Regions from separate parts of the Homo sapiens genome. Here all the other regions are reported to be linked to region 3. Evidence: microRNA targets listed by miRTarBase, many of them from high-throughput screens and not tested one by one. Region 3 holds a microRNA gene; each other region holds the end of a gene's coding sequence.
What was found. The annotated mature microRNA hsa-miR-200c-3p reads UAAUACUGCCGGGUAAUGAUGGA and lies in region 3 at 2,020-2,042, opposite strand. An mRNA with a match to its seed (bases 2 to 7 or 8) in the 3' UTR can be bound and repressed. Matches are read on the target gene's strand: a 7mer-m8 pairs with bases 2 to 8, a 7mer-A1 pairs with bases 2 to 7 and ends in A, and an 8mer does both.

Region 1 (4,000 bases), not on the chromosome of region 3:
GTCCACATCTCCCACCAGCAAAACAAATGCATCAAAGTCAAGTTTCAGGACAAAGGTCCTCCTCGGAGGACCCCAGGACAGGCACAATCAAGGGGAAACATAGTCTTGGCTTTGAGTTAAACTGGCAGACACTTGTCTCTCAAGTTTTTGGTGTAACAGAGTAGGAAACAAAATCATTTAGAAAGTCAAGTCTCTTACAGCCTGTGTGTAAGAATTGCTTCTCAACAAGGCACATCACAGTTTTATTTGGAGATTTCCAAATGTTTCTTGGTATGTATATAAAGCATATATTTTCATAAGAAAAATACTTATCTGCCTTTTAGGCAGTTGTTCTTTTTGTATATCAGATAGTAAATAGATTGTCCCTTTGAAAGCATCCATTAGATAGATCTACTTTCGGACACTGAGGCAAAGGCCTCAGGCACAAAACAGAGTCAGGGGCCCAGAGGATCACAAAACTGGCCAAGCCCTCCCCTAACACAAATGCACTGGAAGAAAACATGAACCCATTGTTAAAATTAATACTAGGATTGCAGGATGTTCTTTAATCTGCGTGATTGCTTTATTGTACAAAAAGTTTCCAGTAACAGTAAATTGGTTTTAAAAAAGGACAAAAAAGTCATTTTGGATAGAAGTGCTTCACTAATTGCTTTATTTAAGCATACAAGAAAAAAAGTTTTATCTGACCAATTACGTTGGAAGGGTTTTATTACCTTTAAGAAGCCATTAGCTAGGATAAAACACTGAAAGCACTTGTGTCAAAACAAATAAATAATGTAAATAACGCTCTCTCAATTAGCAGAGAAAACAGTGAATCCGTTAAATCAGAGACACACATCACTTCACAAGCATGGCCCAGCCAGCACCACCACCCCCAAAACGAACAAAACAAGAGACAGCAGTTTTCAGTTACAATCTTGGGAAAGATCAGGAGCTTTGGAAAACGCGTGGTAAACATGTCTGTTTCTCCTTCTACCTCCACTCAACCTGAGCTGCACCCGGACACTTTAAAGGAGGCATGTGTCCAGAGGCTGCATCCAGGGATGCCCAGAGGGAGCCTGCCCTGCTAGGCCTCCTCTCAGAGGGCGCATCCCAGGCAGAGGAGACTGGCCTGGGTGATCGTTACCTCCACGGCCCAGTAGAGTGTGGAAAAACATGAGGTGCCCACAGACAATGGCTGCCAGCGAGTAAAGGGAAAGAAACCCTGAGGTACCATGATTCTTTTCTCTTACTTCCTCAAATGCTACTGATCTCTCCCCAAGTACAGGCTCAACAGAAAAATACAGTGGTTTGAGGACCCCAAGAAGTCAGCACACAGGCCAGGGGCCAGCTCCAGGCTGGGTCTGTCTCTCCCACCTTGGGAAACCCAGCGCTAAAACAATTTTTTTTTTTTTTTTTTGAGACGGAGCCTCGCTCTGTCACCCAGGCTGGAGTGCAGTGGTGTGATCTCGGCTCACTGCAACCTCTGCCTCCCGGGTTCAAGCTATTCTCCTGCCTCAGCCTCTTGAGTAGCTGGGATTACAGGCGTGTCCCACCCGGCTAATTTTTGTATTTTTTGTAGAGACGGGGTTTCACCATGTTGGCTAGGCTGGTCTCGAACTCCTGACCTCGTGACCGCCTTGGCCTCTCAAAGTCTGGGATTACAGGCGTGAGCCACCGAGCCCAGCCCCTCCTTAAAACAGTTTCTAATCAGATCCGTTATTTTACCCAAATGGGTTGAGGGAACAAAAACCAACCCTCATCACCCTATTTGGTGAAAATAAATATAAAAAAAGATGATCCTCTCTTAAAGGGTCACTTTCCTTCAGGGGTTTGTAAGGCTCAGCACTTTAAAAAGCTTGAACAGAAGTCCGGTATTGCCACTGTGGACTGTTTTTGAGGCAAGTTCCCTAATGTGGACAGCCCCACACCTAAGAGCAGCAGATCTAACTTGGAACGTCTCAACCATGGGTTAAAATCAGATGGGATGAAAGAACACCTGCAGTGACTCTCAACAGCTACGGAAGTCTCACATTGCAGGGCTGACTGATGAGGTGCTGGCTTCTTATTCTCCGGCCCTCTTTCCTAAGCAATGTTTGTCAGGGAATACCAGGTCCGCTTCCTGAAATGCCAGGGCCCCTCTAGGACCTTATCATTCCACAGCCACATCAGTAATAGGAAAACCACCAATGGCTACCTGGAGGTGGCACCAACTTGGAAAGGGAAGGCTGGGCAGGGGTTTGGACACTAAGCCCATGAGCTGTTTGGACAACTTCAATCTCTGGAATTGAGTTTAAATTTCTGTAAACAACTTTAAAGTCAACTCTAGAGAGACATTTTGTGTGACTGGTCCAAATAAAACAGCACATTTAATGAGGTCATATTCTTCTTAAACTTTTTAAGAGAAGCAAAAACAATGGAAAAGCCATTAAAATTTACACAAAGACCATTAAAACTCTACTAGTGTCAATTAAAACAAAGCCAATAAAACATGAACAACTTCAAAGTTACCATCACTTTCCACACTGTTCTACAGTTATAGGAATATATTCAAGCACCATATTGATAATAGGTAGGTAAACGATGAAGTCCTACTTTGGCGGTCTGACCCACGCTCACACAAACGAGGAGCTTCCTAGTCAAGATGCCCCCAGTCCTTGGCAATGTGCCTGCTTCCTGGGCATTGCTCAGTGGCAATGGAAGAGCCAATAAATCAAATCGCTGGTGGAATATTTTACTTTGAAATGGAGTGATGTTTGGTTAATAATTTGAGATCCACTAATCCTAAATGGGGTGACCCATTTAAAATGGCCTCTGTGTAAATTCACAGTTCATTAAATAGAGTCTGGTTTGAACAGGTCATTATGTAGTTAGTATATAAGTAATGGATTGAGCAAGGATGGCTGGGGATACCCATGGGGACACACTGGCTGAGTCTGGTGGCTTTCATAACACTGTCAAGCTTTCTTTTAATGTGAGATTCATTTAAATCACCAACTTAAATTTAGGTGGTTTTGCTTAGTAACCTCTTTTGGTTTACAGTAGAAAATGCAGTGCAAAAATTTTAAATGAGGAATATTCCATTTACAATTAATTTAAAACTTATGAAGCTGTTTTAACTGGCCCATCTAAATGTGTTAATTAACATCAATGATGGTTTCTTATTTTTCACACTTTGTTACTCTGATCATTAACAGTGATGGAAAAGCTAAATTAAGTTAATGGGGAACGGATTATAAATTCTTAAAGGACTTCTTAGTTTGTTTTCAACTGGAAAATATATAGAGAAAGATGAAGGGGCATTTTTGCCTCTACTCATCAATTTTTGGTACCAAATTTCTTAAAAACCAGATGGTTTAAAGAAAATTTTTCCAAAAATTATGTTAACATTCTGCTCAGACATGGCTGCTAAAAAAATAGCATATACACATATAATACTGAACAGCTTCTGCAGTGCCTGTAAACTCTCAGCTCATTTTCTCTTTCTAAAAAAAATATATATTATAACTGATCCCAGAACTCAATCTCTATTGTGCAGCAGTATCAAAGGTCCTTAAATTCTCAACAATGAAGGAAAAACAAAAACCCATTCCCCGGACCGCTTGAGCAGGACTAGGGAAGGAGGAGTCCGTGGATGCAAAGGTTCGCTGCCCCGACGCCCTCAGATTCCTCGAGGCTGCACCTCTGCGGGCAGCTGGCGGGGCGCAGGCCAAGCCCCTCACACCCGGGAGATCCACACGCGCGGCACACACGAAAACCCAATGCCACTTATCGAGACTTCACGCCAACGAGGACAACAATGAGCACAATGATGATGACAAATAATATTAAAATCACAAGCATCTTCCGATTCTTCTTTTGATACTGTTCTGCCTACAAAAAGAGGAGGGAAAAAAGGCCGTCATTTTCCCCAAAATCCCAAATCAAGTCCCACTCGTTTCCAGAATGAGGCTTCCAGATCTCTCTGCACAGTGACTGAGGTCTCTGCTACAGGCTACATGATTGTAATCCCTCCAATCAA
Region 2 (4,000 bases), not on the chromosome of region 3:
TGTAGGATCCCCAAGAGGGTCAACTGTTAGCAATTTTATATCATCTAGCCTAGGTGAGGGTTCATGAGCTGCTGTGCATATGAAGTACTATGCATAGTGTCTTGGACATAGTAAGCAAACGCACTGAATTCGTAGAATGCTTATTATTGCTGTTGTTTTTTTTTACCTTTTTTTTTTTTTTTTTTTTTTTGGCTAGATGTTCTACCCATAGTAAAATAATCTAATTTGGATTTGGCCTCTTTATTTCCTCTCATCGTGTTGTAGGAATGAACATAAGCAACAAAGTAGCTAAAGAGGGGTCAGTAATGGAAGCAAAGGAGCAGGGCACTTGACTGCACTGTTACCTGGTGTGACCTTGGTGTTACCCAGGTGGCCGGGAAGGTCCTGGGCAGGGGTGTGTTGCTGGCTGCTCTCCATCTGAGCCTGTTTCTTGTCTCCAGGTACACCGTGCTCCGGCTAATGATTCGACAGAGGCTGGAGGAGATAGCCGAGACCCCAGCAACAATCTGAGCCATGAGAACGAGGGGATCTGGGCACCCCAGGAACCGCCATTGCCCATAAGACCCCCAGGAAGCTAGGCACTTTCTTTCCATGGAAACATTTAGACACAAACCTCCCCAGCTCCGGCCAAGCCATCATTTGCTACCTGGAGCTGGATGTAGAAGTCAGCAGACAGCTCCCTATCCCTGGACCCCTGCCCTCCTTTTTTCTGCTCACAAGGACTTTTGATTTTAGTTATAAGGAGGACCCAAAATGTGTGTGTGTACATGTGTGTGCACACATGGTACGTGTCCATGTGCCTACCTGATACTTTCACATGTAATTAAATTCCAGGCAACCAGCACAAGAGCCGTGAGCTTGGCACATGTGCTGCTCGTGAGCAGGAAAATCAGAGGAGCCACTGATCTGAGTGGTATTTAGGTTGAAGGAAAGATTTCTCCTCTCAAGTGCCAGGGAGCAGCCACACGTCTGTCTGTGTTTAGAGAGGGAAGAGGGTTCTCCAGGTTCACCATTTGGGTTGTTTATATGTTGGTAGAAATTCTCCCTGTATGCCTAGAAGGATCAGTGAATGTAAGAGCCTTGGAAATTAACAAAATAACAGCCACATAACCTTGCGGCAAGTCTGATGGAAAGAAAAAGATAAACCATCCGTGGGGTAGATGCAATAAGCCCACGTATTTTTACACTGGAAACGTTGATTGTTTTAAATGACAAAGACATATGTGATGTTCTATGTGGAAACCTGTGAAGAGTGGATTCTGCCTCCATCTCTGCCTCCATGGCTACCTTTAGGAGACAGAGAAGATCCTGTGTGTTTCTCTGTACCCAGCTGACAGCCTGTCTCTATGGCGCTTCCTTGAGTGGAAGGAAATGTCTCAAGAAACAAAGATCTCGCTGGTGCGTACACAGTGCTGACCAGCTAGTGTGGCCAGGGCCTGGTGGCCTGGTGGCCAGGAAGTTTCAGGTTGAAGGGAAATGTCGAGGCTACCTGCAGATATGACAGGTGCCTTGAACGCAGCCCATCTTCATGTCATCAAAGGTCTTCCTGCACTTGAAGCTGGGGCGATGTTTGCAGTCAAGACCATTCTTTCCAACCTCTGGGTTCTTGCAAGTTGCCCTCACCTTGTGTGTGGAGATGCATTCCAAGAATGAAGCCTCATCTTGCTACTGAGTGTGGGGTTCAGGGAAGCTCTTTAGGCCACCTGGTGAAGGTGCATGGGGAGGATGGAGCTTCTCCTCAGCTCCTCTGAGCAGCCACCTATGTGATCTTTAAATCCAACCCCAATGGGAGAAAAGGGCAAGAACAGTCTGTGCCCTGGGACTCCTATCAGGAAGCTTGACAGGCAGCTGGGCATCAGTGCAGCTGATATCGTTTGAGGAGGGAGACAGATGCTTGGACCTGGGTGCCTGGCTATGGAGATTGACCAAGCAAGATCAGGAGCTCCTGATAGCAGGCGTCTTTGAGCCTAGCTGGGGTAGAGGCACTGCCCATCTCTTCTCCACCTTCTCTCCACAGAATGTTTGCAGAGCTGGGCAGTTGAGGAAAGGACAGCCCCTGGTTGGTGCCTCCAAAGGAAGGTGGACTTTTTTGGTGGAGACGTTTCTGCCCTGGGCACCCTCCTGCCCCCGATTCATACCTATGGCTTCTTGAGAAGGCTCACAGCTGTGGTCTTAACGTAGACTGCAGAAAGATGGCATGCGGCCCCTGGCATTTCGCCAAGGGTTTTATAGCAAGTCTCCTTCCTCCATAGGGACAGCAGCACCAGCCCTGTGGGGCATGGAGTGGAAGCCCAGAAGGGCTTCTGCAAGCTGCACAGAACTGGGGTAAGAAGACAAAGAGTAGCCACCGGGAGAGGCTTCCTTTGTTACAGCTGGGAAAGAACAGTTCTGTGAATGCAAACACCTCCTGAGTTTTGCAATTGAGAAAATGATTTGGAGAACTTCTCTTCTGGTAATTTTTATTTTGAATGTTCAGGGCCTTAGTTGGCCCCAGTAATTCTCCTTGGAGGACTTGGGAGAAGAATTTCCACAAAGCAAACTACTAACCACTAGCTCTTACTGGACAGCGATTTCTGGCTTATAAGAGTTCTCTTTGATTTGCACTAGCACTACGATAGTGTTAGATGGGGAAATACTGCAACATGTCCAGTTGGCCAGATCACTTTCCAAGGGAGCGATACTAAGGCAGACTCAGCTTTTTAAAGATGGGAGGTCAGGAGGTGGAAGTGAGAGGAGATCCCATCTCACACAACACACTTCCACGTAATGCAGACCACACTTTTCCATTTTGTCCTGCCCTCTTGAGAGGTCATTTCTCACGTCCTAAGAACCTGATCAGAAATTTTGGAAGGGTTCTTTGAAATAGCAGCAGTTGAAACAGAGACACTTTGCCACAGTGTGGAGCAGATTTTCTCACTGGTATCACATGGTCTTGCAGTTTTGAACTCTTCGACCGATTTGTGGGAGTTTATGTAATTGCGTGCAATGAACCTGAAATTGTGTAAAGGACAAAAGACCAGTTTATAGGGTTGGGTTTTTTTTCCAACTTGTGAAAAGCAGTTTAGCTGCATCTGTCTCCCCACCACCCCCACCCCGGGAGGGGCTTATGTTACAAGGTGATCAAGTGAAGGAAAAACCTGAGCCTATCTGGCTGGGATGGTGGAATTAAGCACAAGGTCACATTCTCTGTGATCACATGAGAGGGAAGGTGATGACTTAAATGGCAGGGGGTGGGGATTATCTTGGGGAGAGGCTGAAAAGCACAAAAGATAGTCTTCCCTGTACGTATTGGTGAAGAACGTGCACAAGGCTGGATGGACTTCAACTTGGAGTTGAGTTGAGGCAAGAGGATTTCTGGATATTAGTCACCCATCTGCAAGAAAAATGCTGAGGCCTCGGGTCAAGATTTTGATCTGAGACATGCTGATGCTTCAAGGAGAAATATTTTCACAATCCTCTCTTCCCTCACCAGAAGAGAACAGTACTCTCTCCTAGAAACCTCTAGGTAAACACATTTTATCCTAATATCGGTAGCATATAATGCCCCCCCCAAAATATCTGTTTTCCATGCAAAAAAGTCTCAACAAGAAGTCTGTGGAGTTGAGTGGTTACTTCAAAGTGTCAGGAGAGTGAAGAAATTGGCCACAGAAGAGCAAGAAGCTCTCTTAAGAAAAGGGAATTCTCTTTAAAGAAACCACCACCAACAACAAAACAACCAAAAACCATGTTTTATGTCAAAGCTCTGTAGCACAGAGAATGTGGTGTCACAGATACATCGCCGAGAGAGGTTTCTTTCTTTCTTTTTTTTTTTTTTGAGACAGAGTCTGGTTCTGTTTCCCAGGCTGGAGTGCAGTGGTGGGATCTCAGCTCACTGCAACATCCGCCTCTGGGGTTCAAGTGATTCTCCTGTCTCAGCCTCCCAAGTAGCTGGAATTACAGGGACCCGCCACCACGCCCGGCTAATTTTTTTGTGTGGTTTTAGTAGAGGTGGGGTTTCACC
Region 3 (4,148 bases):
GGCCTAGAGTGTCCTGCCTCTCACATTTATGTCCCCTAATAATGTCATTATCTATCTTTTTTTTCCTACAGTGACAGCCTCATCAAGGGTAAGAAATGAGCCTAGTCACCAAGAACTCCACCCCCAGAGGAAGTGGATCTGCTTCTCCAGTTTTTGAGGAGCCAGCCAGGGGTCCAGCACAGCCCTACCCCGCCCCAGTATCATGCGATGGTCCCCCACACCGGTTCCCTGAACCCCTCTTGGATTAAGGAAGACTGAAGACTAGCCCCTTTTCTGGGGAATTACTTTCCTCCTCCCTGTGTTAACTGGGGCTGTTGGGGACAGTGCGTGATTTCTCAGTGATTTCCTACAGTGTTGTTCCCTCCCTCAAGGCTGGGAGGAGATAAACACCAACCCAGGAATTCTCAATAAATTTTTATTACTTAACCTGAAGTCAAGGCTTCACGTGTTCATGAACTGGGTAACTGGCAGCAAGCATGCGCACGTTCACATGTGCGCTCCTGGGTCTGTCTTTGTGTGTGCCAGCAGGGGGCGCAAAAGAATCTGGCTGGGGCGGCTAAGGGGAAGCAAGGCCTGGGCTCCGAAACAGGACCCAAGCTGGGAAGGCTGGCCCTGAGTTCTCGAGGCCCAGCTGTGCTCTTCACACACCCTCCATTTCTCCCACATCACCCATTTTTTTAAGGCTGGACAGCCATGGCTTTGCTGAGCCAGATTAAAAATCTGATGACCCCAACAGGAGCTGCTTCCTTGGCAGCAGGGTTCCTTGTGGCTGTGGGGAGCCTGCCTGTGCCTGTTGAGGCACTTCTGTGCCCAGAAGCCCAGTGGATCGCGTGGCCTGCTGTAGGCCCCCCAGACTCCATTTCTCAGTCACCAGGCGTGAGGAGCTGCTAGCTAACAGGCCTCCCCTGGGGAGGTGGGCTTTTCATGCCCGCAGTTCCGGGGCCAACAGAACAGGTGCCTGTCTGTTCAGTCCACAGATAAGCTGACACTTATCTTCCCAAGACAGGCCTTCCCGAATCTCAGGCACCAGAGAAACAGAGCCACCGTTTATACCTGAATCTCCCACTACTGCCCATTTCCCATCCCTGCGGGGAGACAAGGAAGATGTGGAACTCAGACAAAACATAGGTGCAAAGTATGTCCAGGAACTGCCAAATGCAGATAGGGCAGCAGGTGGATCTGAACAGAGGGACTGGGTTAATCTGCTTCGATTTTTAAGATATTTTTCTCTGCTTGGGGTTGAGTATCATGAAAGACAAAGCAGACGTCGCAGCCCCAATCCTGAGTTGCTGGGAGGCTAAGATGAGATAAACAACTAGACAAAAGACAGGTCAAGTGACTTGGATCAGTCTTCCTCATGTTCCCCTTCACACTTTATTTATTTCATGCTCCCAAGGCGGGAAGACAATGGAGGTGCCTAGGGAACCAGTGTTTCCACATCTTGCTGCAGCTGTAAAGGCAGCCATTTTGTCTCCTTCCCATTGTTCCCCTTTGCCTAGTGATTCGTCCCCCATCCAGAGGGGTGAAGGTCAGAGGTTGTTGGTCAGTAGTCCTCCATGGTCTTCAGGGCTCCCTGAAGGTTACTGCCGAGAGAACCCACCCGGGAGCCATCTTTACCAGACAGTGTTAGGAGCTTCACAATTAGACCATCCAACACTGTACTGGAAGATGGACCCAGGGCCGGCCGACAGAGAACTACGGTGCGCGCTCACCAGTTGCTACAGGGGACCCTGGCCACAGGCCAGGTGAGGTCTCTTGAGAGGGGGCGAGCCAACCCCAAGCTCAAGGTCGACTGTGGGTTCTGGATCCACCAGGTGACAAATCGCACTGGGTGGGAGGAGGGGCTGGGGCCCATTGTGTCCCTTAGTGGCAGCCAGCCAACAAGAACCACCCCTTGTGCAACGCTCTCAGCTCAAGACGAGGGGCTTCCGGGGTGCGTGGGAAGTGGGGAGGGGGCTGCAGCCAGCTAAGGGCTGGGGACCTGAGGCGATGGATGTTGCTGACACAGGGACAGGGGCCTCCATCATTACCCGGCAGTATTAGAGACTCCCAACCGCACCCAAACACTGCTGGGTAAGACGAGGGCCCCCGCCCAGCCCGCCCACCTTGGGTCAGGCAGCTTCAGGCCCAGGATCCCTGCGGAAAAGCTGCAGATCCCTGGCTCCCATCCCCCCACCACCCGAGTCCCTGGGGACACTTCCTGGTGAGCCCTGCTGCCCGCCACCAGCCACACCCTGGGTCGCTGATCACGAGGCCCAGGTTGCAGTCCAAGCAGGCCCTCCGAAGCCCCTCGACCGTCGGCCCGCCGCCTCTGAGCCACCTTCCCCTACCCCCGGCAGCCTTTCCCGACCCGCGACACACACCGATTTACCCACCCTCATCCCCCCTCTGCAGTCCCAAGCTCAGCCCAGGACCTCTCCCCTGGTGGCCTTTACCTGTCACCGGGCCCACCTGCCCCCAGAGAGTGGGTGCTGGGGAGACGAAGGGGCTTTAAGGCCCCAGATTCCACGGCCTAGAGCCCGCCCTGGCCTCCGCTCTTCCTCCTTCCTTCTCCGCCTGCCGGGCAGCCAGCGCAGGCTCCTTACCTGGGCCCCGCCTGCCACCCTGCGCACAGGTGTGTCCTCCTGCCATAGGCTGCCCCCCCACTGCCTTAACCCCTTCCCTCCCAGCGCCAGCCACGGGCACCTCCTCTAAGGCTTGGCCACTCCTCTAGGCCTCCCACCCTCTCCCAGGGGCCTCTTTTCTCCAACCTGCCTAGTCTCACCCCTGTCTCCAGAGGTACAAAAAGCGGGGGCTGTCCTTGGGTCCCCTCCCCACAGCAGATGCTGCCCCCAGGACTAGCCCATTCCTCTGTGGCCTCAGACCCTGCCCACAGCGGAGCTGCAGGCCAGAGAGATCCCTGAGGTCAGCGAGGGGTCAGCTGGGCAGGAGTTGGGCTGTGCCGCCCCGCAGTGCCCAGCCTGTGCTGGGATCCCCTGAGGGAAAGGGGAGGGAGAAGGCCCCGCCAGGCCTGTGAAGGGCAGGCGGGTCCCAGCAAGGTGTCGCTAGTGTGAAGTTACCCACCGCTACCCAGAGACCCCAGCTGGCCCGGAGCATCAGCCTTGCCCCTCGATTGAGGCCTGCAGAGGGAACGATCGCGCTCCACTCTCCGGACCGAGCTGCTCCCGGACCCACCTCACAGCACAGCCCTCAGTGGAGTCCAAGTCCCACCCCAAGGGCAGGTAGCCCAAGGGCGGTTAGAGGAGGTGGGACTTGCCTTTGTGCAGCTGCGGCTTGTATAGAAAGGGCGTTGCTGGGAGAGGGGACCTGGGCCCGACAGGTGATTGCCCCACCCGTGCCCTGGAGGGCCACAGCCCCAGGGAGCTATTGGGTTGCTCAATCCCTCGCTGTTCTCTCTCCCAGGCTTTGTTTGCTTCCTTCTTAATACCCGCCTGCAATTATTTGATGCTTGTGATCGGTTTGTGAATCTGTCTCCCTGACCAGCCTCCTAAGTTCCAGGAGGTCGGGGGACTGTGAATGCCTGTGACGCCGGGGGCTCTGTAAGGATTTGCTGAGTAATGCACGCCCAGCCTCTGGGCTTTGGGACCTGTGCTGTCTCAGCCTTTCCAGGAGTGGGCGCCAGCACTTCCTGAGGGATGACTCCCACCGGCTTTACTCCCCAGGACACCAGTGTTTCAAATAAAGAAGAAACCCCACTCCTGACATGGGGGAAGGAAGAGGGGACAAAAAACAAAGCACTCTTCACGTCAGCCAGCTCTTCAAACTCTGCCCAAGAGGATAAGGGCAGCAGCGGCCTGGATGAGGGGAGGAGCTGGGCGTGCCCGGGTGCTCTGAGGAGCCTGTCCCTGTTCCCGCCAGAGGGGACGCAGCCGGGCTGGCCTCAGGTCTGCGCTTCCGGCTGTTAACTACTCTTCTTAGTTCAGATCTGGAACTCAGCATCAGGGGAGTGTGATCAGGGCCCCCCTGAGGGTGGCCCCAGCTGCAACTCCAGGGTAAGGAGTGTGGGCTCTGGGGTCAGACAGCCTGGGTTCGAATCCCAGCCTCACTGTTCCATAGCCCTGTGACCTTGGGCAAGTGACCAAGTTACTTAGTTTTTCTGTCCCTCAGTTTCCGCCACGGTAAAATGAGAATGACAGAAGTGCCTAGAC

Region 1: miRTarBase lists STX16 as a target of hsa-miR-200c-3p. Seed matches in the 3' UTR shown: 8mer at 3,412-3,419 and 7mer-A1 at 520-526.
Region 2: miRTarBase lists RASSF2 as a target of hsa-miR-200c-3p. The part of its 3' UTR that is shown has no 7-base or 8-base seed match.

What each region holds. Positions count from the first base shown.
Region 1 is chr20:58,676,039-58,680,038 of GRCh38, reverse strand. It overlaps STX16 (syntaxin 16), which reads right to left. Exons shown (of 9, transcript NM_001001433.3): 9 at 513-3,852. The coding sequence ends at 3,748. The region is part of intron 8 of STX16-NPEPL1 (STX16-NPEPL1 readthrough (NMD candidate)); the gene reads right to left. Among named protein-coding and RNA genes, the nearest start is that of NPEPL1, 15 kb to the left of the region's middle. RefSeq lists enhancers at 3,162-3,686, 3,687-4,000.
Region 2 is chr20:4,780,783-4,784,782 of GRCh38, reverse strand. RASSF2 (Ras association domain family member 2) reads left to right here. Exons shown (of 12, transcript NM_014737.3): 12 at 441-4,000. The coding sequence ends at 510. Among named protein-coding and RNA genes, the nearest start is that of RASSF2, 41 kb to the left of the region's middle.
Region 3 is chr12:6,961,636-6,965,783 of GRCh38, reverse strand. It overlaps MIR200C (microRNA 200c), which reads right to left and starts at 2,085; the gene lies at 2,018-2,085. It overlaps PHB2 (prohibitin 2), which reads left to right. Exons shown (of 10, transcript NM_001144831.2): 10 at 72-457. The coding sequence ends at 99. It overlaps MIR200CHG (MIR200C and MIR141 host gene), which reads right to left and starts at 2,539. Exons shown (of 2, transcript NR_135032.1): 1 at 2,436-2,539; 2 at 1,337-1,583. It overlaps MIR141 (microRNA 141), which reads right to left and starts at 1,687; the gene lies at 1,593-1,687. It also overlaps LOC105369634. RefSeq lists enhancers at 793-842, 2,625-3,426, 3,668-3,877, 3,686-4,148, 3,427-4,148.